3 linked regions of the Homo sapiens genome follow. The protein of the gene in region 3 interacts with the protein of the main gene of each other region in a biochemical or structural test. Each region holds a gene or a part of one and is shown on either strand. Other genes may lie near its edges.

Region 1 (7,741 bases), on a different chromosome or scaffold from region 3:
GTATGTATTTACTTTAAGAATACCACATGAAAGGGGATATACTTGCTGCCTTTGTAAGATCTATACTCTTAAAGTAGCTAACGCTAACTATTCACATCTCCCAAAACATCTTAATTTCCAAATATATGCTAATCTATTAATTGTAACTATGCTACACATTATTTTCCCTAATAGTTCTTAACAGATACTTACTGGTTTGTTTAAATGATGTCCTACTGAATCTGCTAATGTTCCTATGGCATCGTAAAGAATGAGCAGGTTCTTATGCTGGTATTTACTAAATGCAAAGACCAGGGTATCAAGTATATAAGCAAGGTAAGGAACAAGTTCTGTACAAGCCTCCTCTTCTAGGGTAGCAAAGGCACTGTTTAAAAAAAAAAAAAAAGAATACTTATTGACTGTAAGATATATCTAACTCTTAATTGCTAAAATGTTTATGTTCTGTTTTACCCAATCAGGAATTTCCTAAAATGGTCTAAGCCATCTGTTAATGAAAGCCCTGGTCATCAGCACTGTGAATTATTTACCGATTTCTTCCATAGCACTTGCCATAAATGATAATTATGTTGCTGCTTTGTATTTCCTACTAACCTGTAAGTCTCAAGATGGCAGGGACTTTATGTAAACTCAGCATTTAGTATATGCTTAACAATTAATAGCTAAAAAAAAAAACCGAGGTACTGAATGAATAAATTATAGGATCTCAAACATAATCTATATCCTCCCTCCCTTAATATCTTCCAGATATGACTGCTTCAGATGGATTAAGGTCAAACTCAAATTTACTATCCCTGCCAGGCGCGGTGGCTCACGCCTGCAATCCCAGCACTTTGGGAGGCCAAGATGGGTGGATCACTTGAGGTCAGGAGTTCAAGACCAGCCTGGCCAACATGACAAAACCCCATCTCTACTAAAAATACAAAAATTAGCTGGGCATGGTGTCGCACACCTGTAGTCCCAGCTACTCAGGAGGCAGAGGCAGGAGAATTGCTTGAACCCGAGAGGCGGAGGTTACAGTAAGCCAAGATCACACCACTGCACTCCAGCCTGGGCGACAGAGCAAGACTCCATCTAAAAAAAATAAAATAAAATTTTCCTTTTTTTTGTTCAACAGTTATTTTTTCCTACTATCAAGGTCAATGGTAAAAGCAAACCTACTCGAAAAATTAAGAACTATAAACATAAGCAGAAGGCCCTTTTAAAATATAAAGGTATATTGCAGGAAACTGGAATATTTGTAGTAATAAAAGCAACTGCTGGCTTGATATAAAGAGACAGCCACCAAACCAACCAATAGAATGGCTACTAGAGCAGAACTACTAAGCACTCAAAGACCTTTAACTGGTAAGTGACAGACCACAGGTCCCTGTGGGACTTTCTGAGTTATGGTGGTTGACCTGTAGTCTAAGGATGTCAATCTGCTCAAACGTTGTTATTCCTTCAAGAGTAGGAGTCCTGCCATCACTAGTTCAGATGTCTGAGGGAATTAGGGTGTAAGATAGTTCTGTTATAATAACCACTGAGTGGGAAAAATGAGCCAAAGAAGAAACAGCTAAGATCGATGTTGTCACATTTAGATCTACAAAATCATCAGGTAAAACCCACATGACAAAATTCTCCTGGCCAAACAAAATGTATAAAATACGCTAATATGCAAACCCAAAAGCTACAGATCCTGCAAAACACTTCACCAAGAAGAAAAAAGAAAACTAAGCTTTCTGATATAACTGGAAAATTTTCAATTACGAAACACTTCATTATAGGTTTAACACCAACACTCCATCAGAAGGTTGAAAATTAAGTTTTTCACTGCCACAAAGAACACTGTGTTATGAATCTGTCCCACCTGCAGGCAGCTTCTTGTACTCTCTTGTTGCTGTCCAGGATGCGCTTTAGCAATTCTGTCATTAATGGCTTCAGGTACGTGTCTGGCGGCTGGCTGACCACCCAGTGTGCATAGCGGCTAAGAGTCCAGCATGTTATGGAACGCACAAGAGCCTTTTTATCAGAGAGGCACTGAATAAGGTGAGGAATAAGCTCAGGCAAGTATGGAATCATGCCCTGCATGCAACCTAGAAAAAAAATAAATCTTTCAAAATGCTAAAATTTAGTTAACATTATTTTGGTTGATTATGAAAATAAAACACGTATCTATGAAAAAATTCAGAATATTTCTACTGCTATACACATACTACAATAACCTATACCAAAATTATTTTTAAAACCCTGAAGTTAGAGCTACCTGCTCCCAAGCATCTTACAGTGTTTCAATTTCTTCTAATAGATGTTTACTGCCAGGACAAAATCAATAATAACCCTTCATAGAGAATGAAGAGAGTCTTGCCTTATTGTGTTTCCTATACTTACCTAAAGAATCAAGGATTTTTTTTTAAAGCAATGGGGATGCTTCAGACATCAGAGCCTTTCATTCTGTTCCCTTAATTTTTTTGTTTTTATTTTTTATTGAGATGGAGTCTTGCTCTGTCACCCAGGCTGGAGTGCAATCGCACGAATTCAGCTCACTGCAACTACCACTTCCCAGGTCCAAGCAATTCTCCTGCCTCAGCCTTCCAAGTAGCTGGGACTACAGGCACATGCCACCACGCCCAGCTAATTTTTGTATTTTTAGCAGACGTGGTTTCGCCATGTTAACCAGGCTGGTCTTGAAACCATCTCAGGTAATCCACCCGCCTAAGCCTCCCAAAGTGCTGAGATTATAGGCGTGAGCCACCATGCCTGGCCTCTGTTACCTTTATTATAACAAAAACATTTTGCAAAATATCTAGCTGGGGTTAGAAGACGGCCTATGGCTGTTTAATACTAGTTATCTGGTTCAAAATAGAAATTCCTTAAAGTAGCCTAGCCTTATTAGTACCTAATAGTAGTAAGAAGCCAACTTACATAATTCAAACTGGACTTAGGCTTACCTTCAGCAATTGCTCCTAAAACCAAAATGCCTGATTCTTTAACAACCCATTCATGATGAAAAAGTAATTCTTTCAAAAGGGGCAAAATATGTGGCAGCAGTTCATCACGATACACATTTGCAAGAACATCCAGGGCAGCAGCAGAACATTTTCCTAAGGAAATATTTAATTCAAAAATATTACATTAACCTCTTATTACTTATATATTATTTATTGTATATGTAACATTTTATTCGTATCTCTAATACGGAGTTTTAAAATAAGAATTCAATTGAATAGGAGGTAGTTTGTCACGTGAAAACATTTTGTGGTTTTTTTTTTTTTTTTTTTTTTTGAGATGGAGTCTTGTTCTGTCGCTCAGGCTGGAGTGCAGTGGTGCGATCTTGGCTCACTGCAACCTCTGCCTCCCAGGTTCAAGTGATTCTCCCGCTTTAGCCCCCTGAGTAGCTGGGATTACAGGTGTGTGCCAGTACGCACAGCTGATTTTTAGGAGAGACGGGGTTTCACCATGTTGGCCAGGATGGTCTCAAACTCCTGACCTCGTGATCCACCCTCCTCAGCCTCCCAAAGTGCTGGGATTACAGGTGTGAGCCACCATGCCCAGCCAAAAACATTTTCTATTAAGATGAATATTTTTTATGACAAGAACTTACTTGGCAAATTAATTGTGAACACATTGTATTCTGTACATAACTGTCATACTAGAATTCTGTCTATACAGTAAAACAAATACTGTGCCACTCAATTCAGTGCTTCTAACATAACCATTCAATATGATACACTCATATTACAATCATGATTACAATCACTGTTACAATCACGCAAAAAACATACATTATTAACTCTACTTAACATTTCCAGCAGTATATCATCTAGAATTAAACAGACAATTACTTAGCTGGACTTTAGACACAAAAACTGGAAGAAAAGTCACTGGCACATGAAACATAACGCATGCTAGAAAATACTCTTTACAAAGAATTAACTATGGGACTATAAATCAACCCAGATTTTATTATAATAATAATTTAGACAAGAGCAACAAAATCAAAAAGAACAACAAAAATATCATTTAACTGTTATGGGTAGGAACGTGTTCCTGAAGTTCATGTATTAGAAACCTAATCCCTAAAGCAACGAAGATGGGAGGTGGGGCCTATCAAGAGATGATTAGGTCTTAAGGGTTCTGCCCTCATAAATGGGTTAATGTCGTTACTGTAGGAGTGGGTTAGTTATCAAGAGAGTTGGCTTATTATAAGCGTGAATTGAGCTCTTAAGTGTGTCCTTCTGTCATCAGATGATGTTGCAAGGAGGTTCTCACCAGATGCAGCCCCTCCATTCTGAACTTCAGGTATCCTGTTATAGTAGTACAAAATGGACTAAGAAAATATCAGAAATTTCCAACGTGAACTAGGCATAGTAAATGGCTAATCACAAACTACTAGACAATAATAAAATCCTCAAAAAAAAAAAAAAAAACCAAACCAAACCAAAACAAAACCATTACATTGGCCAGAAATTAACACCTTACCCATCAATAAGGATCTTAGTTATACCACATGGTAGAGCCATACAACTAAACAGTACACTGACATGCAACAAAAGGAAATCTAAATCTGTATGTACTGAGGAAGAATGAGGCATACGATACACAGAAAGAAAGCAGCAGAGTACATATAATCTGATTTCACTTTTAGAAAACTGGCTTCTCCTCTAAAAAAGATGCCTGTATGTTTTCCCAAGCACGCACAGAAAAGCTTTTGGAAGGATACAAAGAATGGGATGTGAAGAGGAAGTGTTCCCCCATCCATGTATGTATATTATTTTGTAGAGTTTTCTGTGTAATGATCTTGAGCCATCCTGCTCCCCTAATCTGAAAGTAGGGATACACTGGGAAGTAATTTGTAATAGTAGTAAACACCATGTGTTGTCTTAACAAGTGAGACTTGGGTCCCAGTACTAGATGTGCTATCAGTACTAGCTATGCTAACCTTGGGTATATCTCTCTTTCTGCAGTTTTCTTGCCTATTCAAGGTTGTTGGAAATGTTAAATATGACTTTATTCTTACTTATGATTAAACAGACTTTGATATGCATGCAAAGTCCTTGGCCTAGTGCCTGGCACATTAGGCACTCTAAATAGAATGTTAGTTACAGGAAACTGAAGAGGCAACAGAGAAATTAGCATTATCTAACCAAATGAAGAACACAGCCCAGACTGATAATGTCTGTTCTTAACTGCTTTAATCATAGTTATTAGAAATCCCAACACTTTGAACTAGAGTAGTGGCTCTAAACTGGGGTTGATTTTGTTCCCCCAGGAGATAACGGTTGTCACAACTGTGTTTGTGCTGCTGGCATCTTTGGGTAGAGGCCAGGGATGCTGCTTAACATCCCACAACGTGCAGGACAGCCTCCGCAACAAAGAATTACATGCATGATGTGGCATTCACATGTAGAAAAAAAAAAAGAATTATGTGGCCCAAAATGCCAATAGTGCCAAGGCTGAGAAACCCTGAACTAGAGCAGTAGAGGTTTAAAATCCAGCAAACAAGCAAGCAAAATCAGAACACAGGTGTTTAGGTTCATCCCCAATTAGGAAGCGTGGGCCAGAATGCTAGCTCCACAGGTGATATGATTTGCAGCTAAGGTTGGAAATTAACATATTTTAAGAAGCATATTTCATAAATTTTGACTATAACAAAGCAACTTATAATAAATTTGAATATAATAAAGCAACTTATATTATTTTAGAATTACCTATGATAGCCAATTTTCATGCAAATTACCAGACAGAAAACACTCATGTTAGAAAAACCAAAAAAGCTTGTGGCAATGTTCTTACAGTATTAAAACAAACAGCCTTTTGAGAAATGGTAGTTTAAGAATATAATAATGATAAAATAAGAGCAGGTCCACCAGGAAAATGCAAACCAAAACCACAAAATACCACTTCACGTCCACTAGAATGACTATAATAATAAAGAGATAATAAAGCAAGTGAGCATGTGAAGAAACTGGAACCCTCCAGACAATGCTGCTAGGAAAGCAGAATGGTGCAGTCACTTTGGAAAACATCCTGGTTATTTCTCAAAAGGTTAAACATACAGTTACCATATGACCCCAACAATCCTTCTCCTGAGTGTTTACCCAAGAGAACTGAATACACATTGGGCCAGACACAGTGGCTTACGCCTGTAATCCTAGCACTTTGGGAGGGCAAGGCGGGTGGATCGCTTGAGCCCAACAGTTCAAGACCAGCCTGGGCAACATGGCAAAACTGTCTCTACCAAAAAAAAAAAAACAAAAATTCATCCAGGTGTATTGGTGAGCACCTGTAGTCCCAGCTACTTGGGGAGCTGAGGTGGGAGGATCACCAGAGCCCAGGGAGGTCAAGGCTGCGGTGGGCCATGACTGCGCCACTGCATAATCATGCTAGCCTGGGTGACAGAGACCCTGCCTCAAAACAAAAAAACAAACAAACAAACAAAAAAAGTCTACACACAAAAATTATACATGAGTATTTATAGCATCACAACTCAACAGCTACAAAAAGAGAAACACAAATGTCCACCAACCAATGAATGGAGAATATGTGGCATATTACAATGAAATATTATTTCACAATACAAGTGAATGCTACAAAATGAACCGTGAAAACTTTATGCTAAGTTAAAGAAGATGGTCACAAAGGACAATGCATTGTATGACTCCATTTACATGAAATGTCTAGAATAGGCAAACCCAGAGACAGAATATTGACTAGTAGTTGCCCAGAGCCAGTGAACAATAGGGAGTTACTGCTAAAGGGTATGGGTGATGAAAACATAGTCTACAACTGATTGTGGTAATGGTTGAACAGCTCTCTGAATATACTAAAAACCAATGAAATGTATACTTTAATGGGTAGTAAACTGTACAGTAGATGAATTATACCCCAATAAAGTTATCATCAAAGTAGGCAACTGTGCTTTTCCCTTTCTGACTTACTTAGATTCCAGTCAGAAATTGTATCATCATCATCAATTTCATCATCATCATCATCTTCCTCTTCAATTCCATCTTCATCATGCTGCTGAGCCACCGTCCTCGATCGGTGAAAACGTGGCCGTATATCCTGTTCACTATCAGGAATCGTTTCGTCTTCTTCAACATCACCCTGTTGTTTTTTTAAGAGAAATTTTTGGTGGCATTCATTATAGGCTAATAGTATGTACATGAGTAAGAGAAACAGAATATCCAGAGATGGGGTCATGCACAGAATTCTGAAATATACTTCCAGAGTGATTAAGAACCACGCCCATGTACAGAACATATTCCTTATGGAGGGGCGAATAGACTGACCTAACACACCTGTTAGGTTATACGGCCCTTTCAGCCAACTACATGGCCTCCACTGGCTGGTATAATCTAAGTTACCTGAATCAAATTCAGAGCAGCATATATAAGAATGTTTTTAAAATAACTCCAAGTAATTAAGGGGAAATTAATAATAACCCTACCAATGTCACCATCTAGTACCAAATTAAGCAAGAATTTATCATTACTTAAACTTATGCTTCTATCCTATTATGGATAATAGGAAGTCTATTTACAGGAGATCTATTCTCAATGAATGTTTTATTGGCCAAATCCAAAGATGTACTAAGTCAATATAAAAATCTTGTTCCCTATTCATCAAAAAAGCTTCCTTACCTTAAGTAGGATAATATCTATGTCTGAGTACTTCATGCCATTCACTAACACAGGAATCAACCTATAAAGAAAGAAATTCATGAAACAAAGACCTTAAGATCTCAAGAGAATAATTAATA
Region 2 (7,741 bases), on a different chromosome or scaffold from region 3:
CATGCTGTGTTGAGTTTATATATCAAATGCATTTGTTTTTCTTGCTTTTTGTTTTTTTTGTTTGTTTGTTTGTTTTTTGAGATGGAGTCTCACTCTGTTGCCCAGGCTGCAGTGCAGTGGCGCGATCTCAGCTCACTGCAAGCTCTGCCTCCTGCGTTCATGCCATTCACCTGCCTCAGCCTCCTGAGTAGCTGGGACTACAGGCGCCCACCACCACGCCCAACTAATTTTTTTGTATTTTTTAGTAGAGACGGGGTTTCATCGTGTTAGCCAGGATGGTCTCGATCTCCTGACCTTGTGACCCGCCCGCCTGGGCGTCCCAAAGTGCTGGGATTACAGGCGTGAGCCACCGCGCCTGGCCTTGTTTATTTGTTTTTTTTTAAGAGACAAGAGTCTCGCTCTGTCGCCCAGGCTGGAGTGCAGTGGCAGAATCATAGCTTACTGCAGCCTCAAACTCATGGACTGAAGCGATCCTCCTGCCTCAGCCTCTGCAGTAACTGAGATAAATGCATTTCTAATCTGAGAAAATTAAAGATAAAATCAATGAGCAAAGAAAAAAAAAACCGAGACAGAAGCAGAGAGGTGGGCACATGCGCGGGCCACTCACCTTGTCCTTGAAGTCGGTGTGGTTTTGCAGGATGGCGCGCTGGTAGGTGCCTGTCCGCACGTAGTCCTGCATCATGTTCTGCTGCTGGGACAGGTAGCCATAAAACTGGAACAGAGACATACCGATGGCACGGGGCACATGGTGGCACGAGGCAGCCAAGGCCCTGGCCAGCCCTGTGATAGAGCAAGGGGCCATCTAGGGCACAAACCTCCCTCGGGAGGTCGTGCACCCTCTGCCTGGGCCCCACTAGCAGCTCCAGGAGAGGGAGCAGGAAGCCGGAGGGCAGCCCCCAGGAGGACACCGCCACTATCACTGCAGCCGATGGCAACAGCTGATGCCGCCTGGACCTGGAAGCCGCCCAGGAGAACTCAAGATTTGCCACAGGCAGGGTTCTGGCATCGGGGGCCACCTGCCTCATCTTGAGGGCCCCAAAGAAGAAGAGAAGCAGATCGAACAGAGCCCTAGAACTCAGAGCGCCAGGCAGGTGAGGTGTGGTGTCTCTCTGTAAGACAACGGGCGATCGGGAGGCAGCGTGGCACCTGGGCAGGGGCACAGACTTTGGCATCAGGCAGACCTGGCTTCCCATCTTGGCTCTGTTGCATATAGCTGTGTGACTTGGAGCAAGTCACTTAACCTCTCTGAGCCTCAGTTTTCTCATCTGTAAAATGGGGACAATAATAGCACTTACCTCCTAGCGTTGTTGGGAGGGTCCAAGTGCTTCTGTGCATGTGACAGCGCTTAGACCAGGGCCTGGCATGCAGGGAGCGCTCAGGGCATTGTAACTGCTCTACCGTTATTCACAACGCCTGTGGCCCTGAGCTCCACCTGTGCTCAGATCCTTCCAGCAACCCTCTCAGGCAGGCACCTGCATCTCCGCTTCACAGATGAGGAAACTGAGGCCCAGCCAGCAGAGGAAACCTGCCCAAGGCTACATGGCCAGTAAGGGACAGAGCCAGGACGGGAACTTGGGTGGGCCTTCCCTGTGCTGTGTGGCCTCCTGCGGGTGAGTGGCAGGGGGGCTGCCGGGGGGAGGCGGCCTGGCTGAGGGGGAGTACAACCCACCTGGAAGTACTGCACGGCAGAAGACTCCTCCGTCCGCTCGCTGAACACAGACCGCTCCAGGGTGTGGCCCCGGCAGGTTTTCAGGATGTTGTAGAAGGAACAGAAATCTGGAACAGGGAAGCCAAGTCACCGGGGGGCGGTCAGCAACCCAGCATGTGGCCATCTGGGAGGGAAGGTTCTGGATGGCCGTATGTCCTGACGTTTCTCCCTTGAACATACAGGGCTGGTGATTTCTCTTCCCCGAAAAACAATTTTCAAAGTTCAAAGAAAAGATGAAGGGCAGCCATGCCTGCACTGTGGTGACTGACATGAGAAGAGGGCAGGTAGCCTGCATGTGGGGCTGCTGTCTGGTGGGAGTGGGCCTGGGGATTCCTCACCAAAGGGCAGCTTGGTGAAGCTCTCTCAAGCACACGCCCACCGGCCCAGGAGTCAAAGCTCTGGCAAATAAGCCCAAGTCCACCCAGAAGCTCAGGGCAGCATCTGTGTGGGGGCAGCAGACACTGCAATGTCCAGTAAGAGGGGACTGGACAAATGCCAGGGGCACAGAAAAGCACAGTAGAGGCCAGGTGCAGTGGCTCATGCCTGTAATCCCAGCACTTTGGGAGGCTGAGGTGGGAGGCTGAGGTGGGCAGATCAGCTGTCAGGAGTTCCAGACCAGCCTGAGCAACATAACAAGACCCTGCCTCGTTAAAAAACAAAAACAAAAACATGAAATAAAAAATTAAGAAAAGCATGGCAGAGAATCACCAATCACCACCCTTCCCAGAGATGCAATGGTATGTGGCCCTTTAAAGCAGGCTCTATCTATTTGGCTGGGGACAGTGGTTCTCAACTGTAATCCCAGCACATTGGGAGGCTGAGGCGGGTGGACTGCTTGAGCCCAGTTTAAGAGGCCAGCCTGGGCAACATAGCAAGACCCTGTCTCTACAAGAAATAATAAGCCGGGCACGGTGGCTTATGCCTGTAATCCTAGCACTTTGGGAGGCTGAGGCGAGTGGATCACTTGAGGTCAGGAGTTCGAGACCAGCCTGGCCAACATGGTGAAACCCTGTCTCTATTAAAAATACAGAAATTAGCCAGGGGTGGTGGCGGGCACCTGTAATCCCAGCTACTCAGGAGGCTGAGGTGGGAGAATCACTTGAACCCGGGAGGTGGAGGTTGCAGTGAGCCAAGATTGTGTGACTGCACTCCAGCCTGGGCAACAGAGTGAGACTCTGTCTCAAAATAAAATAAAATAAAATAAAATAAAATAAAATAAAATAAAATAAAATAAAATAAAATAAAGCTATATTTATTAACATAGAATAATAGCCACTAAATTATATCAAGTAAAAAACAAAACAATATTTAAAAGACAATCTCTTTAAAAATTAAAAGACACGGTCAGGCATGGTTGCTCACGCATGTAATCCTAGCACTTTGGGAGGCGGAGGCAGGCGGATTACCTGAGGTCAGGAGTTCAAGACCAGCCTGGCCAACATGGTGAAACCCCCGTCTCTACTAAAAATACAAAAAATTATCTGGGTACAGTGGCACGTGCCTGTAATCCCGGCTACTCAGGGCGCTGAGGCAGGAGAATCGCTTGAACCTGGGAGATGGAGGTTGCGGTGAGCCGAGATCGCGCCACTGCACTCCAGCACTCCAGCCTGGGTGACAGAGCGAGACTCCGTCTCAAAAACAATGAAAAGACACAGTTCGGGATGAGCAAGTTCTGGAGATGGGCGGTAGTGACAGTTGCACAACAATGTTAATGTGCTGCTTGCTACCAACCTACACACTTCAAAAGGGTTAAAATGATCACATTTTGTTATGTAGATTTTAGCACAACTTTTAAAAACTGACAGAACTGAAATAAAAAATATTAAAATACAAATAGTCTTAAGAGTGGGAACGGCCGGGTGCAGTGGCTCATGCCTGTAATCCCAGCACGTTGGGAGGCTGAGGCGGGTGGATCACTTGAGGCCAGGAGTTTGAGACCAGCCTGGGCAATATGAAAAACTCCATGTCTACTATATTAAAAACACAAAAATTAGCCAGGCACGGTGGCACACACGTGTAGTCCCAGCTACGCGGGAGGCTGAGGCATAAGAATCGCCTTGAACCCGGGAGGTGGAGGTTGCAGTGAGCTAAGATAGCACCACTGAACTCCAGCCTGGGCAACAGAGTGACACTCTTTCTCAAAAAAAAAAAAAAAAAAAAAAAAGGGGCCGGGCACGGTGGCTCACATCTGTAATCCCAGCACTTTGGGAGGCTGAGGCAGGTGGCTCACTTGAGGCCAGGAGTTCAAGACCAGCCTGGGCAACACAGTGAAAACCCATCTCTACAAAAAATTAGCCAGGCATGGCAGCTTCACACAGCTGGCCCCGAGGGCTCAGGCTGCCCAAGGTACATCTGGGTCACTGCACAGCTACCTTGAGACAAGGGGGAGGCCGGCAGTGGCTCATGGGCACGCAGCCTCTCCACCTCCAGCTGTCCTCGCACCAGCACCTGTGTCAACCACTGGACTCACTTCAGGTCTCTGGTAACCAAGCCTGCGGTGGGACCTTCAGACCATCTCCAGCCCTGGGCATTCCTGGACACCTCTCTGCTACCCTGGCTGCATCCACCTGGGGTTCTCCCACCCCTAGTCAGGAATCTTGTGTCCACCTGTGCCCCCAAGGTGGGTTGGTTAAGCCCTTCTGGTGGCTTCTCTGCGCCCTGAGCAAACTCTTCCTGCCTCTAGGACCTCGCCTCACTCCATCCACAGCTGGCCCAGTCACAGCTGGCCCAGGGCTGGCCACTGCCAGAAAGACTGGTCCCAGGTGGTCAGGATGGGCCTCTTGGAGGTGGGGACATAGAAGCCAAGCCCCAAAAGACCCGGAGGAGCCGGTGAGGGAGGGTCTGGGATCCAGGGTCTGCCCAGGCCAGAGTGTATTCTGGGCATACCTGCATGTGGGAATGTGGTTTTGAGGGCAGTGGAGCCTTCTTAAGGATGCACGGGCCACCCCTCAGCCAGGCTCTACGCCCCTGCCCACCAGGGCTCTGGGCGCTTTGGGCTGGTGTCACCGGAATGGAAGGAGGGCCACGTACCGTTGGGTGTGGCGAACTGGATGAGGACGCTGTTGCAGCCCAGGGTGATGATGAAGGACTGCTTGCCCACACGGCTGCACTCTGTCTCTCGGGACACTGAGCACTTAAAGACACACACATCTTCATCTACGAGAGAAGACAGGCTGGCGTGAGCGGTGCAGCCCTGTCAGCTGCCTTCTTTTGAGCCTGGGTCCCTGTCGCCCTCCTGCTGCCTCCCCTTGGTGCCCCCAGATTCTTCCAGAGTGCCACAAAACCACCCTGGCAGCATTGCCGGGTGCCCTGACTGCCCAGCCCACATGGAAGACAAGGGAGCGACTGATCAGACAGCAGGAACACAGCCTGTGTCCTCAGGATGATCAGGGCTGAGACGGGCATGGTGAAGGCTGAGGTGGGCAGACAGGGCCACAAGGCATGGTGCTGGCCCACAGGAACTCAGAGCTGGAGCTGCCTCTGCCCTGCTCGGCTGAGCCCTTCTGTTCTTGGATGGGCGCAGAGCAGTGACTGCATGTGGCCAGTGGAGTCAGACCGCTGGGTTCACACCCCATCCATGCCATTTGTTCACTGTGACACAGGCATGTCCCTCAGCCTCTCTGGAACTGGGGTTCTCACCATCAGATGGGGCTAATGGCGGGGCAGTGGTCTAGTGAATTAGGACACTGTCTCCCTGTACCCATCATGATAGCTGTTACCAGTCATTCATTCCACAAACCTGCAGCCACTCCACTCCAGCCAAATGGTGAAACTTAGCGATGCCAGGAACGGGCCAGCCCAATCAGGCACTGTGCCCCTGCCTGCCATACTGCAGTGGGACAGGTGCATCATCTGTAGTATTCTTGGCAAAAATGTTTGCCCTAGTCTCATCTTCAAGGGACAACAGAAAAGGACAAGTTGTGGGGCAGGCTACAGGACAACCAGCCTGGTCTCCTTGAACAGGCCAATGTCAGGAAAGACCAAAACGGTGGGAGCTATTCCAGAGTGCAGGAGACAAGAAAGAGGGGAGTGCCCAATGCAATGCAAAGTGGGACCCTGGGCTGGAGCCAAACGAAAAATGTTTTTAAAAGTTATACAGGACAACTGGGGAGGCTGGGCCCACACCTCTAATCCCAGCACTTTGGGAGGCCAAGGCAGGAGGATCACTTGAACCCAGGAGCTGGAGATCAGCCTGGGCAGCATAGCAAGACCCCATCTCTACAAAAAAATTTAAAAATTAGGCAGGCATGGTGGCATGCGCCTGTTGTCTTAGGGACTCAGGAGGCTGAGGCTACAGTGAGTCATGACTGTGCCACTGCATTCCAGCCTGGGTGACAGAGCAAGACCTTGTCTCAAAAAAATAAATAAAGGACAACTGGGGAGCTGGACAGAGTGGCTCACACCTGTGGTCCTAGCTACTTGGGAGGCTGAGGTGGGAGGATCGCTTGAGCCCAGGAGGTTGAGGCTGTAGTGAGGTATGATGGTGCCACTGCACTCTAGTCTAGGCAACAGACGTGAGATCCTATTAAAAAAAAAAAAAAAGACAACTAGGGAAATGTGAGTGTGGACTACATATTCCATAATTTTAAGTTATTTGGATGTGACAATGGTATTGTGGTTTTGTAGAGAAATGCATATTTTCTTAGAAAACATATGCGGAAGTATTTATGGCAAATTCCCATGATGTCAGTAGCTTGCTTTTGAATAGCCCATCATAACAACAACAACATGAGTGCAAATATGGCAAAGTGTTCTCAATCACCCTGAATAGCCAAAACAGTCTTGAAAAAGAATGAAGTTGGAGGATTCCCATGTCTCAATTTCAAATTTTACTACGAAGGTACAGTAATGAAAACAGTGTAGTGGTACTGGCAAAAGAAAGGAGACACAGATCAATGGAACAGAATCAGAGTCCAGAAATAAACCCTTATACTTATCCTCAATTGATTTTTGATAAGGATGCCAAGAACATTCAATGGGGAAAGAATAGTGTCTTCAACAAACACTGTTGAGAAAACTGGATAACCACAGAGAAAAGAATGAAGTTAAACCCCTACCTCACACCATATACAAACAAAACAGAACTCAAATGGAGCAATGACCTAAATATAAGAGCTAAAACAAGAAAACTCTTAGGAGAACTATTTGCAAATCATCTATTGTTAAGTATTTAGTGTCCAGAATATATAAAAAACTATTTTAGGGTCAGGCATGGTGGCTGACACCTGTAATCCCAGTACTTTGGGAGTCAGGCAGATTACTAGAACCCAGGAGTTTGAGACCAGCCTGGGCAACATGGTGAAATCCCGTCTCTACTAAAAATATAAAAATATTAGTCGGTGTAGTGGCATGCGCCTGTAGTCCCAATTACTTGGGAGGCTGAGGTGGGAGAATCACCTGAGCCCAGGAAGTTGACACTGCAGTGAGCAGAGATGGCAACGCTGCACTCTAGCCTGGGTGACAAGAATAAGAGCATGTCTCAAAAAAAAAAAAAAAAAGTCTGGGCACAGTGGCTCACGCCTGTAATCCCAGCACTTTGGGAGGGCAAGATGGGTGGATCACGAGGTCAGGAGATCAAGACCATGCTGGCTAACACAGTGAAACCCTGTGTCTACTAAAAATACAACAAAACAAAACAAAACAAAATTAGCTGGGCATAGTGGCAAGTGCCTATAGTCCCAGCTACTCAGGAGGCTGAGGCAGGAGAATGGTGTGAACCCGGGAGGTGGAGCTTGCAGTGAGCCAAGATCACACCACTGTACTCCAGCCTGGGCAACAGAGTAAGACTCCGTCTCAAAAAAAAAAAAAAAAAAAAAGAAACAACAATTATTTTGTATCTATTTTTATTATATTTATTTTTTGAGATGGAGTCTCACTCCATCACCCAGCCTGGAATGCAGTGGCACAATTTTGGCTTGCTGTGACCTCTGCCTCCCAGATTCTAGGGATTCTCCTGCCTCAGCCTCCCGAGTAGCTGGGGGACTACAGGTGTGCACCACCACGTCCAGCTTATTTTTGTAGTTTTCGTAGAGA
Region 3 (8,129 bases):
ATGCCACCAACTCCCAAGAAAAAAAAGGCTGGGGGTGGAAGCCTCTTTGAACCAAGGGAGGGATGCAGCCCTTATCACCAATTTCTACTGCAGAAAAGATGATGAGGCTGGCCTTCTGGCCTGGCCTGCAACTACCTTCCTCAACCTGCACAGGCAGGAGACAAAGTTCCTGAAGACCACGGGGAGGGGTGGGGGGAGGGAGGTTCCTCAGACCAGAGAGGAGGAAGCATACGGGGCTCACGGGAGGCGGGGGAAAGAGGAGCAGCCCATCTATCCTGACCTGTAGACGCGACCCCGGGGCCTGCTGTTAAAACCACTGTAGAATCGAGAGCGGGAGCTGTTGTAGTTGGTGGTCCGGGCGCGGTAGCGGGCTCGTGGAAAACCCCGGTCTGTTGTGCTGATGCCTGGTCTGTTGGTTCGTTTTGGGATCACCTGAGTCAGAGATGAACAAATGATAGCCTTAAAGGCAACCTGGAGAGTTTATACACAACTAGAACAGCAATGGACATAGGCTTACCTTGATTTGCCTTCCTCTAAATAGGGACTCATCTAAGGCCAAGGAAGTCCTCACTGACTCTTTGTCTGAGAACTCTATATACGCAAACCTGAAAAGAATTGTCATTGTATCTCTCTGAGGTTACAAATACCTCACAGGTCAAATTCAACCTGCAGGCATGCTTCGTTTTGGGCTACAATGCAGTTATATTTTTTATTTGTCAAAATTCTTCTAAATGGAAAATTTCAATCATTCGAAATCATTTAAATTTTAAAATTTCCAGCTACTCTTTGAAATTTGTAAAAATAAGACACACAGGGCCTGAATTTCCATATGGCCATAATAGGCCAAGTAGAAGCTGCCCCTCCCCTTCTAGTTCGTAATCCCACCCACATCTAGCCTTCATTTTTGTTATCTGGCCTCTGAAGACATTTAGGTGCAACTCCTGATATATCAACATTAATGCCATGATCTTAAATGACACAGATCACCTGTGTTAACACCAAATAACTTACTGCTCAATATAAAACATAATTTATCTATTTGTACACTGTAATTTAAATTATCTCAACTTACTCCCCTTTACTTACCCTTTGGGATGGCCACTAAATTTGTCACACAGTATGGTAACACGGTTGACTGAACCACAGCCATGAAAGTGAGCTTCCAGCTCTTCTGCTGTTGCACCATAGTCCACCTGATGAGAGGAGAAAAATTTCACAGGCACCAGGCAAATTCCTGTCTCAAAAGGAACCCTCCCGAGCCTTTGGTCTGGGCCATCATACACCAAAGCACATGAAATCTGGTAATTTGAGGAATTAATCTCTTTTCCTTCCAAACCCAGAGCCTTTGCTGATTACTGATCATTCCATTACCTTTAACCTCCTTCCCACACTCCCTCCACACCCAAAACCACATCTATCCCGGAGATGTTCCTTTCAGGACTATTAAATAATTCCCCAAAAGAAGAACTTGCCCCCAACCCCAGTCAGAGCCCCAGTACGTACATTGCCAACATAGATGGAACGGGCATCAGCCTCCATCTTCTCCTCAATGGACATGATCACCGGGCCAGCTATCAGGAAAAAATAATTTTTTACAAAAACCACACACTTGTTTTCTACTTGACCAATATGTTGCACTTCCACCACCAGCACTATCCCATAAGCTCAGTGAAGGCAAAGATTTTGGTCTGTGCTGTTCCCTGCTGTACCCACAACCGAGAATAGTGCCTAGTGCATAGCAGGTACTCACTAAATATTCAATAAATTGAAAGAATTAATACACACTTAAAACAGTATAGGAATCCCTCCTGCCTCCAAATCAAATCCCTAATGAATGGCTTTGGTTGAAATGCTTTTAAGAGTGAGCAAAATTAAGTGGGCTGAGACTCCACATTTCTAGATTAAAGGGGAAACCCCTTGCAGCTTGCTTTCTCTTAGAATCCTAAAGCGTCTCCAATTGGAGGAAAAACTATTAGATTTGAAGGTCAAATGCGAGCACGCAACCTCTACAAAGAAAGATAGACGTAGACTAAGAACAAAGAGCAACACAATTATAACAGGCACAAAGGGAGGCACAAGGCTACCACCACCAAAATATACGTTCTGCCTCACAAAGGTCAGAGGAACACACAACGGACTATGACCGCGGCACAGTCATAATAGCTCAGACAAGCAGCTCCAGGGTGCCGAGTATCTAACCCCACATTCCCCATCCTCCCCACAACCCTTCCAACCCGAGAACCCGGGCTCCGCGTGCAACCGCCAGTTACTCACCATTGCCTGGAGGTGGACTCATATTCATCTGCTTCTCTACCTCGTTCTGTAGCTCCTTTAGCTTCTCAGCTTCTTCCTCCATCTCCCTGACTCGAGCTTTGATAGCTTCCAGCTCCTAATATAAGTGGGGAGGGTATGGAGGACAGCTTAAGAGGAACCAACGCAGGGGCTGTGCCCTGCTCTCGGCCAGAGCGCGGCCTCAGCCATGCTCGGCCATTTCCCTCGCCCCATGCGAGGGTCGTGATAAAAGAAAAGCTACCCTCTCTAGAACAACACTAGGCAACCGTGACGCCCGAATCAAGCCAGTCGGGCCCCTTGTAGTGATCGCTGACCCATCCCCGGCCCGACCCGGCCCCAGCCACGTTATTCCCCGCCCAACCCCACCCCCCGCCTGCCACCCGCTCGCCCGAGCTCTGGGCCTCCAGTGACCCGGCCGGCCAGCCGCCGGCCTGCTCGCTCGCCCTCCTTCCCTCACCGGGTCCTCAATGGCGCCGTCCCCCGGGTCACCCTCGACCAGTCCCGGCTCCTCCTCCTCCTCTTGGCTGCCGGGGGCTCCCGAACCAGGCCCAGGGCCCGGAGCTCCCGGGGGGGCGCGGGGCCGGGGCGGCTCCTCTTCGGGCTCGGGCTCCGGCTCGGGCTCCAGCAGCAGCTCCTCAGGCTCCAGTTCCTCAGACTCCAGGCCGTTCCCGTAGTCCCCTGCGCCCCCCGGGGCCCCCTCCCCGGCCTCCCCACCGGCCCCGGGCACAAGATGGCGCCGCCGCCCCGGCCCGGAGCCCCGACCGCCCGCAGCCCCCGCTGCTGCTGCCGCCGCCGCCGCCGCCGCCATCGCCGCTCAGACTGGGGCCCGCCGCCCGGCGATTGGAGAGCTGCGCCGGCCACGCCGAGGACTCATTAGTCAAGCTGCCTGCCCGTCACCATGAGCTAGTACTCCATTGGGGAATATTACTTGGCAATCAAATAAGGCCCCACCTCTAAGGCGGGGCACTGCGCCAAATTCTCAAATCCCGGTAGGGGAAATCTGCCTGTCAATCAACACGCGTCCCACCTCCTATCGAGTCCTTAGGTAATAATACCGCCACGCTGTGACGATATTCCTGCTTCTCCCCGGCCTACGGGCGGGCCCGCGAAGTATGGGACGCTCCGTGATTGGCCCTAGCTAGGCGACTGGAAAGGACCAATCTTCCGATCGCCTCACCGCAGTGGCCCAGTCTCAGATGCCGATTGGCTTGCGAGAGTCGAAGGGGTGACACTCGTTTCGTGACAGGTGAACCTTGCCCCCGAAAGGACTGCCGGGCTTCAAACTTGGGAAACCCGAGGTCACATGACTAGCCAGTCCTAGGGGGCCGCCATCTTGATACTACTGCTTGCCAGCTAGTGAGCTGTTGGCCGGGTGAGGCCCAAAACAGAGCAGCAGTTTCAGGAAACTTGTATCTCGACCAGGAAGCACCAGTAGATGGGATGTTGCTGAAAATGGAGGTTGTGAATGAAGCATTCCAGGAGGGAGCTTACTTTCCCCATCCAGGTTATTGGCACCATCATCCACTAGCTCTCCCGCACCAGAAAGCAGGGAGGATTCCTCAGTCCAGAGCTACTAGTCACAAGTCCTGTCTGTCCCGCCCTCTTGCGTAGGCCTTCTGCTCCCCAGTTCCATTTTCTTTTTCCTGGACAGCTTCCAATGTCACCCCTCCAATCTGCACCGCTAACAGACTGGCCCCCCTTTGCTGGCGAGGTAAAGTCTCAAAACCGTAAATCACGGCCTTCGATACGCCAGCATGTGGTTACTTTGTGGATGTTGTTTCCTTCCACTCTTCTCGTTCCTTTGGGTGTACCTGCACCCAGTCTGTGCCTCTAACATGTAGTCCCCCTTCAATCAAACCACTGCAAACCCCAGCTTCCCCTCATTTCCCAGGACAAGTGGGCCTATCTCCACGGCGCGCTTAATTGTTTTACTGTTTCCTAACTAGGTTGTGAGCGCCTGCAGATGAGGGGCCGGTTCCTATTTATATTCGCATCTCCACGGCCTGGCAATATGCCTACCACATAATGTCCTGTTAGATGTTTGTTGATTGAACAGGCATTGATTGGGGATTTGGGTGCCACCCTTCATTTAAGCCCTCAAGCCCCCAAGATCCCAGAGGAATTTCTCCTGGCAGGTTCCCACTACACCCCTGCACCCCAAGTACCAATGAGACCTAGCCCTGGAAGGCAGGACTGCCATATTTTGGTAGCAGTCCTACACATTTATTAAAAAGAAAGGAATGGCAGTGTACGTTTGCAAGAGAAATTTTTGTGGGCACACTAACCTACAGTTCGAAAGATACATATAGCCCAACCAAAAAGTTAAACAAACATGGTTGGCCGAGGGATTTGGACAAGAGAAGATCCTCATTAGCAAACCAAAAAATCAAGTGACTCATTATACCCCACTATTCCCCTCACCCCCACTTTTTCTCACAATTCCTTACCTCAAGATCTGGGGAACTTGCAGCAGAGTCACAGTCGCTTAAAATTTCACTGCAAATTACTTCATCAGCCATCTCAGCTTCAGTGATCTGGGATAACTAAAGTTGAGCACCGAAGACAAGCTCTAAATGATTGAATACCCTGGAAGAAAGGTCTTTTATACTAATCTTAACCTAATCAAGATTTGTTAATCTTATTGGTACCCAATTTAATCAAGCCAACAAAAGGAAATGTGATTTTTAAAAATGGCTTTGAATCCTATTTTTGTTGAGCGTTTGATTTTGTAATAAGCACCACTCCTTATTATTTCACTGGACTCTCACAACAACCCCACGGGGAAAGTATTTCCAAAACCATAACCTTTTTTAGGGAAAAAGAAAAAGGCTTAATGAAATGAAGAAACTTGCCTAAGTCATTGGACTAATTAGAAGTGTGCAGGGCTGGCTGGGCGTGGTGGCTCACACCTGTTATCCCAGCTCTTTGGGAGGCTGTGGCGGGAGGATCACCTGAGCCCAGGAGTTTCAGACCAGCCTGGCCAACATGGCGAAACCCCATCTCTACTAAAAATACAAAAATTAGCTGGGCATGGTGGTACATGCCTGTAAACCCAGCTGCTCGGGAGGCTGAGGCAGGAGAATCGCCTGGGCAACAGCAAGACTCTGTCTCAAAGGAAAAAATAAAAATTATATATATATTATACATAATATATATTATGTAATATATATAATAATGTGCAGGGAATTCAAAGCCAGCTTTCAAAGCTCAGATCACTACTACTATAAGGCCTGCTTTAATACATAAAAATTATGTGTGAAAAATGGCAAGACTAAATTCCAACAATAAACAAAAGTTTAAGCAAACTATAATTATATCCAAAAAAAATTATTATGCATCTCTTAAAAGGGTTACATAGTATGACAAACATGCGAAAATAATTTTGTTAAGCCAAAGAAGAATGTAAAATTGTACATAATATATAATTACAACTATATCTGATTTTTTTTAAAAACTTAGGCATGGGAGGAAAAAAGGAGCAAGAACCAGTACAATCTTTCTATTCTTTGGCAGTATATATCAAAAGCTTTTAAAATGGTGAGATTCTTAAGGCCAGGCGGAGTGGCTCACAACACTTTGGGAGCCAGATTGCTTGAGTCCAGGAGTTCAAAACCAGCCTGGGCAATATGGCAAAACCCATTCTCCACTAAAAATACAAAAATTAGCTGGGCAAAGTGGCGTGTGCCTGTAGTCCCTGCCCAGCTACTTGGGAGGCTGAGGCTACAGTGAACCATAATTGGTGCTACGTGCACTTCAGACTGGCAACAGAGTGAGACCCTGTCTCAAAAAAAAAAAAAAAAAAAGAGCCAGGTGAGGTGGCTCACGGCCTGTAATCCCAGCACTTTGGGAGGCCAAGGCAGGTGGATCACCTAAGGTCAGGAGTTCGAGACCAGCCTGGCCAAAATGGTGAAACCCTGTCTCTACTAAAAGTACAAAAATTAACTGGGTGTGGTGGTGGGCGCCTGTAATCCCAGCTAGTCAGGAGGCTGAGGCAGGAGAAAGGCTTGAACCTGGGAGGTGGAGGTTGCAGTGAGCCAAGATCGCGACACTATATTCCAGCCTGGGTGACAGAGGGAGACTCTCTCCAAAAAAAAAAAAAAAAAGTTGAGATTCTTAACCCAGTAATCCTATTTCTTATCTCTTCTAAAAATGTAATCCAATTTGTGAATAAATATTTTTTGTTTGTTTGTTTTTGTTTTGTTTTTTTTGAGACAGAGTCTCACTCCATAGCCCAACCAAGCTGGAGTGCAGTGGCGTAATCTCAGCTCACTGCAACCTCCACCTCCAGGGCTCAAGCGATTCTTGTGCCTCAGCCTCCTAAGTATCTGGTACTACAGGCGCACCACCACCAAGCCCAGCTAATTTTTTGTATTTTAGTAGAGATGGGGTTTTACCATATTGCCCACGGTGGTCTCGAACTCCTGAACTCAGGTGATCAGCCCGCCTCAGCCTCCCAAAGTGCTGGAATTACAGGCGTGAGCCACAATGCCCAGCCAGAATAAGTATTTTTATCAAAGTGAAAAAATACAGATAAAGGACCAAGTGGGCATTAAAATTACTGTACACAAGTAGAAGTAATTGTATATAGTCATTATGACTTTGAAACATTTTAACATCAAGAAAAAATGCTTGCAATATAATGGTAAGCAGAATTGCGTATACAAAATTGCATGATCATAAAAGCAGACAAACAAATACTAGAAAGAAGTATACCAAAATAGTAATTGTCTCTGGGTGACAGCATTATGATTCATTTTCTTTATAATTTTCTATGTTCTACAAATTTTCCACAATCATTATTTATTTATTTACTTGTTTATTTTGCTGCCTTTGTTGTTTGAGACAGGGTCGTTGTCGCCCAGGCTGGAATACAGTGGCATGATCACAGCCGACCACACCCTCAAACTCCTGGCTCAAGCAATCCTCCCTCCTCAGCTTCCGAAGTGGCTGGGACTACAGGTGTGCACCACTATGCCCAGCTAATTTTTTCTATTTTTGTGGAGACAAGGTCTCACTATGTTGCTTAGGCTTGTCTCAAACTCCTGGGGCTCAAGCCATCTGCCCAACTCAGCCTCCCAAAGTGTTGGGATTACAGGCATGAGACACCATGTCCAGCCCATTACATATTTATTTTTAAAAAATCACTCCAACTTTCAAACTTCTTCTACTAGGCATAATTACCTTATGAAAGAAACAAACACATTAGCTGAGTGTGGTGGCATAGTCCCAGCTAATCCAGACGCTGAGACAGAAGGATCACTTGAACCCAGGGGTTCCAGGCTGCAGTGAGCTATGATCATGCCACAATACTCCAGCCTCAGCAACAGAGTAGGACCCTGTCTCAAAAAAAGAAAAAAGCAAACATATTTAAAAGGCTATTTGAGGGACAGGTGCGATGACTCATGCCTGTAATCCCAGCACTTTGGGAGGCCGAGGAGGGTAAATCACCTGAGGTCAGGAGTTCGAGACCAGCCTGGCCAACATGGCGAAACCCCGTCTCTACTAAAAATACAAAAATTAGCTGGGCATGGTGGCGTGCGCCTGTAATCCCAGCTACTCAGCAGGCTGAGGCACGAGAATGACTTGAACCCGTGAGGCGGAGGTTGCAGTGAGCCGAGATCGTGCCACTGCACTCCAGTCTGGGCAGCAGAGTGAGACTGTCTCAAAAAAAAAAAAAAGCTTTTTGAATGGTGACTTGTAAGATCCTTCCCTATTAGTCTATAAACTGTAAAAGACAGGGAACCATCTTATATTTGTGTTCCCTTTGCCTATCACTCTGTGCTCAGTAAATGATAACTGAATGAGTCATCTTCAGTAATGAATAATCTTATTTTTTT

What was found.
Region 1: the proteins of PABPN1 (region 3) and TNPO1 form a complex in vitro, tested with the Homo sapiens proteins (one study listed by BioGRID).
Region 2: of the proteins of PABPN1 (region 3) and CARM1, one has a biochemical effect on the other in vitro, tested with the Homo sapiens proteins (one study listed by BioGRID).

What each region holds. Positions count from the first base shown.
Region 1 is NC_000005.10:72,882,409-72,890,149, reverse strand, and holds part of TNPO1 (transportin-1), read right to left. Parts: intron 7,684-7,741; coding exon 7,623-7,683; intron 7,087-7,622; coding exon 6,918-7,086; intron 3,081-6,917; coding exon 2,928-3,080; intron 2,073-2,927; coding exon 1,847-2,072; intron 365-1,846; coding exon 193-364; intron 1-192. UniProt on the Homo sapiens protein: Functions in nuclear protein import as nuclear transport receptor. Serves as receptor for nuclear localization signals (NLS) in cargo substrates.
Region 2 is NC_000019.10:10,902,074-10,909,814, reverse strand, and holds part of CARM1 (histone-arginine methyltransferase CARM1), read right to left. Parts: intron 4,865-7,741; coding exon 4,739-4,864; intron 1,777-4,738; coding exon 1,670-1,776; intron 1,266-1,669; exon of another isoform or gene 1,021-1,265; intron 713-1,020; coding exon 608-712; intron 1-607. UniProt on the Homo sapiens protein: Methylates (mono- and asymmetric dimethylation) the guanidino nitrogens of arginyl residues in several proteins involved in DNA packaging, transcription regulation, pre-mRNA splicing, and mRNA stability.
Region 3 is NC_000014.9:23,316,441-23,324,569, reverse strand, and holds the start of PABPN1 (polyadenylate-binding protein 2), read right to left. Parts: upstream 3,114-8,129; 5' UTR 3,101-3,113; coding exon 2,750-3,100; intron 2,565-2,749; exon of another isoform or gene 2,390-2,564; coding exon 2,275-2,389; intron 1,572-2,274; coding exon 1,504-1,571; intron 1,194-1,503; coding exon 1,087-1,193; intron 606-1,086; coding exon 518-605; intron 433-517; coding exon 281-432; coding exon of another isoform or gene 271-280; exon of another isoform or gene 1-270. Other genes in the region: BCL2L2-PABPN1 protein, read right to left, coding at 281-432, 518-605, 1,087-1,193, 1,504-1,571, 2,275-2,389.